2 linked regions of the Homo sapiens genome follow. The protein of the gene in region 1 interacts with the protein of each later gene in a pairwise test. Each region holds a gene or a part of one and is shown in the gene's direction. Other genes may lie near its edges. The genes, in order: MAL and TMEM213.

Region 1 (2,715 bases):
TGCCAAAGGGACCCCAGGGATGGGTGGAAGTCGCCTGGGGCGAGATGGAAATTTCTGGAGAAATCTGGAGGTTTCTAGATTATACAATGGTGGGCAGTGATGGCTACAGTTTAGGGAGAGGGCTTTCTGAAGCCAAAATTTGCCCATTCGTGCCCAGCTCTACGTGTTCCCAGTGGGCCATTTCTTGACCCCACTTGGAAAATGAGTCTCCACTGCTCTTCCTGCTGGGGACTTCCAAGGTGCTTCTGCCAAAGGCTTTCATTGGTCTGGAATGCCCACCTTTTATGGAGGGCTGCCCACTGGTGTCTGACTGCTCCTGCCCAGATACGTTCTCTTAAATGTGTTATTCAATAATTCAGCTTACTCACCGCCTCCAGGCAATGAGGGAAAGGGCTTGGCCAGGTGTAGGGGCAGGAGAGCAGGCACCCTGAGGGCTGGGATTGATGAGCATTTTCAGGAGTCACAGAGGCGTAGCCGCCCTAAATGGACGTCGTGCCTGAGCTGGAAACTCTTGACCCCTAACCAAGGTCACAAAACCAGGTGCAGAGATTGGACTTGGCAGCAGGCAGGCCTTCAGGGAGTAGGGTGATGGGAGCAGACAGTGCCCAGGAGGACACAGCAAGTCCCCAGAAAGCAGGGCCATCGCTCCAAGGGCCACAGTGGCTGACTGGATGGTCCCAACAGTAAGGCCCCTCCTTTAGACAAAAGCTCAAAATCCCTTCTCCCCTTCTCTGTCCCTCACTTCCTATGAAGTCTGGCTCTCTCAGCCACACCTGTGATATTAAGAATCCTAAAACAAAATAATGATAGGGTGAGAATGTCCAGGCAGCATGGAGACTTTCACCAGGGCCAGCAAACCCAGGTATTTACAATCTCTCAACCGAGCTACCAGGACCACAGCTGGAGGGCGCTGGTCTCACTGGTGTTGGGGGAGGAAGTTGTCCCTGGAGAGTTACCTGCCTGAGATGCTTTCATTGGAGGGGTCTTTGAGGACTCCATCTCAAGTCAGCCGAAACCTCAAGCTGAGACGAATGTGATGCTGGGTGATAGTGGAGAGTCTTACCTTCCACACCAGATCCAGGAGACTGTTAGGTCACATGGAGCTCTGTACTGAGAGGATTTGGTGCACACCTGGGCTCAGCAGGGAGGGCGTCCATGTGAGGGTGAGAAGCAATGACAGCCCAAGCTCTCTGGGTCTGGCCCCCCCTACGCCACGTGGGGCTGGATGCAGTGCAGACGCTGTGCCTCGCCCTCCCTACACAAACCCATTAACGGCCATTTCTCTTGGTTCCAGGTGTTCTCCTACATAGCCACTCTGCTCTACGTGGTCCATGCGGTGTTCTCTTTAATCAGATGGAAGTCTTCATAAAGCCGCAGTAGAACTTGAGCTGAAAACCCAGATGGTGTTAACTGGCCGCCCCACTTTCCGGCATAACTTTTTAGAAAACAGAAATGCCCTTGATGGTGGAAAAAAGAAAACAACCACCCCCCCACTGCCCAAAAAAAAAAGCCCTGCCCTGTTGCTCGTGGGTGCTGTGTTTACTCTCCCGTGTGCCTTCGCGTCCGGGTTGGGAGCTTGCTGTGTCTAACCTCCAACTGCTGTGCTGTCTGCTAGGGTCACCTCCTGTTTGTGAAAGGGGACCTTCTTGTTCGGGGGTGGGAAGTGGCGACCGTGACCTGAGAAGGAAAGAAAGATCCTCTGCTGACCCCTGGAGCAGCTCTCGAGAACTACCTGTTGGTATTGTCCACAAGCTCTCCCGAGCGCCCCATCTTGTGCCATGTTTTAAGTCTTCATGGATGTTCTGCATGTCATGGGGACTAAAACTCACCCAACAGATCTTTCCAGAGGTCCATGGTGGAAGACGATAACCCTGTGAAATACTTTATAAAATGTCTTAATGTTCAATACATTTGTTGGGTGTTTTTTGGGTTTGGGTTGAATTCCTCAGCATCAAGAATACCATCAATTCAGCTTTCTTTCTGAGGAATCCTTTGACTTAACCTGAATCTCAAGAGACAGCATCAGGTGGCAGTTCAGACGACGGACACTGTGTGTGCCAGGCCACTGCACTCTCAGAGCCCGGTGCTGGGGAGCCCACCCTCCCAGCTACCTGCCCAGATGGCTTCCCCTCTCTCTGGAAACTGGCCAAGTGCCAGCCAGGGGCAGCTTCTCCTTCCTACAAGACACAACAGTCTGTGCCCCACTAGAACCTCCTTCCACCAAAAGAAAACACGGTGCACAAGTTTTCATTCACTCATTGTGAAGCTCATCAGCGTGTTCCTGGGCAGTCTGCTTTGTTCCCATTGTGTGGATAATACATTATTTTAGAATTTCCTCGGGCCACTCCATAGGAGAGAAAGGAGAGGAAATTACAGAGTGAAAGGAAGTACGGTGACAAGGGGTGAATGCCATGTTTCAAGTCTGAGATGTCTGGGTTGAAAGGAGATGGGATGATTAGGAAGGAGGCACTGAGTTAGGAATCTGGAAAGCCCAGCTCTGTTATGAAACGCTCCCTTATCCCATGGCTCCGAGAAGTTAGTGCCATTCCAGAGATGGGACGCTGGAAGAGGTGCTTGAAGACCCGTGAGCTTCCTGCCATGGAGGTGTGTGGTAGAGCATCTGCAACCTCTTGCTGGCAGCCATGGGGACAAAGATTCAAGCTTCAGGCTGTAACGGTGTCATGTACCTGTGGTCCCAGCTACTCAGGAGGTTGA
Region 2 (3,455 bases), on another chromosome or scaffold:
TGATGTTTCTTCTTCTTCTTCTTCTTCTTCTTCTTTTTTTTTTTTTTTTAGACGGAGTTTCACTCGTCACCCAGGCTGGAGTGCAATGGTGTGATCTCAGCTCACTGAACCTCCGCCTCCTGGGTTCAAGCAATTCTGCTGCCCCAGCCTCCCAAGTAGCTGGGATTACAGGCATGCACCACCACGCCCGGCTGCTTTTGTATTTTTAGTAGAGACAGGGTTTCATCATGTTGGCCAGGCTGTTCTTGAACTCCTGACCTCAGGTGATCTGCCCACCTCGGCCTCCCAAAATGCTGGGATTACAGGTGTGAACCACTGCACCTGGCCTCTTCCTCATCTTATAAGGACCCCGCCATATTGGATTAGGGCCCACCCATAGGACCTCATTTAAGCTTAACTGCCTCTTCGAATGTCCCATCTCCAAATACAATCACATTGGGGTTAGGACTTCAATATATGAAACTTGGGAGAGGGGAACATAATTCGGTCCATAACAGGGAGTTAGCTTTGTTGCAGAAAGCCTCAATATGCCCATGCGGGAGCTTCTATAATACTTTCATAATACTCACTACTGATTTACAAAAAACATTTCAAAATCTATGCCTGGGAATAGCTTTTGCCAGTGCCTCAGACTATCTCCTATCTTTTCTTCCAGAAGCAAGCAGCAGCAACAGCTCAAGCTTGACCGCTCACCACCCAGACCCTGGGACCCTGGAGCAGTGCCTCAGTAAGCTTCTCCTGCCAACTGCTCTAACCCCAGAACTGGCCCTCAGCCTGGGAGGGAAACAAAGGCCTCCCCGCTTTCCGTTGATTGGTGTCAAGTGGGCAAGGGCCTGCCTGGCCTTCCTGTGCACCAGTGTGGTTTGTCCCAGAACTATTTGCAGAGCAGGTCTGAAAGGCTTTCTTGGCTCTGATCCCCATCTAGGTGCACAATCTTTGACACAGATTGCTTTAATGACCCATCCCAGGTCAGCAGCTAACAATGCCCTAGGTTCAAATGCTTGAAGAAGTTTGGAGGTGGAAAGGCCATAAGAAATCATCTAGTCCAACTTCCACCCAATGCAACAGCTTGGTTTTGGCGTCCTTGGCATACATATTTCTTCTTCTTCTATGCACGTTTTTCCTCTTCTTGCCTACTTCTAGCCACAAGGCGCTCAGTAATTCATAGAGCAACCACTATTATGCATGTCTAGCTAATAGAAAGTTTTGCAGCTGGGCGCAGTGGCTCATGCCTGTAATCCCAGCATTTTCGGAAGATGAAGCAGGTGGATCACCTAAGGTCAGGAGTTTGAGACCAGCCTGACCAATATGGTGAAACCCTGTCTCTATTAAAAATAGAAAAAAATTAGCTGGATGTGGTGGCATGCGCCTGTAGTGCCAGCTACTAGGGAGGCTGAGACAGGAGAATTGCTTGAACCTGGGAGGCAGAGGTTGCTGTGAGCCGAAATTGCACCACTGCACTCCAGCCTGGGCAACACAGTGAGACTCCCTCTCAAAAAAAAAAGAGAAAGTTCCACTTTATTTTGTCTGGTTCCCTTTATCCTGCCCTCATTGAATGACCGAATGCATTAACTTAGGCACTTAAAACGAAGGATAGGCTGGGCGTGGTGGCTCATGCCTGTAATACCAGCACTTTGGGAGGCCCAGGTGGGTGGATCACTTGAGGCCAGGAGTTCAAGACCAGCCTGGCCAACATGGCAAAACCCAGTCTCTACTAAAAATACAAAACATTAGCTGGGTGTGGTGGTGCGTGCCTGTAATCCCAGCTACTTGGGAGGCTGAGGCAGGAGAATTGCTTGAACCCAGAAGGCAGAAGTTGCAGTGAGCTGAGATCATGCCATTGCACTCCAGCCTGGGCAACAGAGTGAGACTCTGTCTCAAAAAGAAAAAAAAAAAAAAGGAAGGGGTATTAGGGAATAATACATAGAGGTTAAGAGTATGGCTTCAGAGTCCTGCAGACTTGCGTTTGAGTTCTTCTGCCATCTTGTGATCTTGGGCAAATTACAGCCTCAGTTTCTTCATGTAAAATGGGAATAAAAGTCGCACCTGTCGCTTTGTGAGGAAGGCATAAGCTAACGTGTAAAAGCACGCAGCACAGTGCATGGCACGTAGTAGGCCTCATCAGTGTCAGCTACCGTGCTGTGATTGTTCTGTTAATATTAATGGTAGAGAAGCCTGGGCAGGGCTGGTGGTGCATGCCGTCGTCCTTGCTGTCCCTTCCCCACCAGACGTGGACTTCTGCCCACAAGCAGCCCGGTGCTGCCGCACAGGAGTGGACGAGTACGGCTGGATCGCGGCAGCTGTTGGCTGGAGCCTCTGGTTCCTCACCCTCATCCTGCTCTGTGTGGACAAACTGATGAAGCTGACTCCAGATGAGCCCAAGGACTTGCAAGCGTGAGACCCAGGCTCGGTGCACAAAATGGTGATCGCCACCAATTTGTGGCTAATGGGGAAGGGGAGTAAGGCTAACATGGTTTCTATTATTTAAGTCATTTTCACCTTTAAGCTTCAGTTACTTTTACAAGGGAAAGAAGAAAGAGCGGGAGAACCAAATAAGGCAAGCCAGTGCTGCCCTTGCATGTCACTCCCAAGGGCCCCTGGGCTGTGCCCAGGTAACTCCTCTCTCAAGATAGTCCCTCTGTAATGTATCCTGTTTTAACCTTTCTTCTAGGCACCAAGGGAGGTGCACAAGAAACTATAAGACTTAGTCTCATCATCAACATTTTCAGAAGCAAGTGCATAACCTTCTCACCAAAACCAGGTTATCTGCTTCTGTCCCTGGCTTGAGTCCTGGGCTTAACTGTCATTTCAGAATCTGAGAATCAGTCAGGTATGGTGGCTCATGCCTGTAATCCCAGCACTTTGGGAGGCAGAGGTGGGCAGATCACTCAAGGTCAGGAGTTCCAGATCAGCCTGGCCAACATGGTGAAACCCTGTCTCTACTAAAAATACAAAAATTAGCCAGGTGTGGTGGTGCACACCTGTAATCCCAGCTACTTGGGAGGCCGAGGCAGGAGAATCTCTTGAACCTCGGAGGCGGAGGTTGCAGTGAGCCAAGATCATGCCACTGCACTCCAGCCTGGGCGGCAGAGCAAGACTCTGTATCAGAAAAAAAAAAAAAAAAAAGAATGTGAGGATCAGGTGGGCATGGTGGCTCATGCCTGTAATCCCAGCACTTTGAGAGACTGAGACAGGAGGATCACTTTAGCCCAGGAATTCGAGACCAGCCTGGGCAAGATGGCAAGACCTTGTTTCTGTTTAAAAACTTTTTAAAGTTAAAAATAAAAATGTGAGAATCCCCTTGACACTCCCACCATCTTCACCCCCACCTCAGGTCCTTCTCCAGCTCTCCTTCTGGCTTCATCCTGTCTTCCACGGCTCTCCTGTCCCACCTATTCTCCCTGCCGGTGCCCAAGTTTTAGCCTTCACTGCCTTCCCCTAGAACACGCCAGGGA

The links.
Region 2: the proteins of MAL (region 1) and TMEM213 interact in a two-hybrid assay, tested with the Homo sapiens proteins (one large-scale study listed by BioGRID).

The regions. Positions count from the first base shown.
Region 1 is NC_000002.12:95,052,087-95,054,801, forward strand, and holds the end of MAL (myelin and lymphocyte protein), read left to right. Parts: intron 1-1,294; coding exon 1,295-1,369; 3' UTR 1,370-1,906; downstream 1,907-2,715. UniProt on the Homo sapiens protein: May be involved in vesicular trafficking from the Golgi apparatus to the cell membrane. Plays a role in the maintenance of the myelin sheath, and in axon-glia and glia-glia interactions.
Region 2 is NC_000007.14:138,800,672-138,804,126, forward strand, and holds part of TMEM213 (transmembrane protein 213 precursor), read left to right. Parts: intron 1-655; coding exon 656-727; intron 728-2,228; coding exon 2,229-2,398; 3' UTR 2,399-3,455.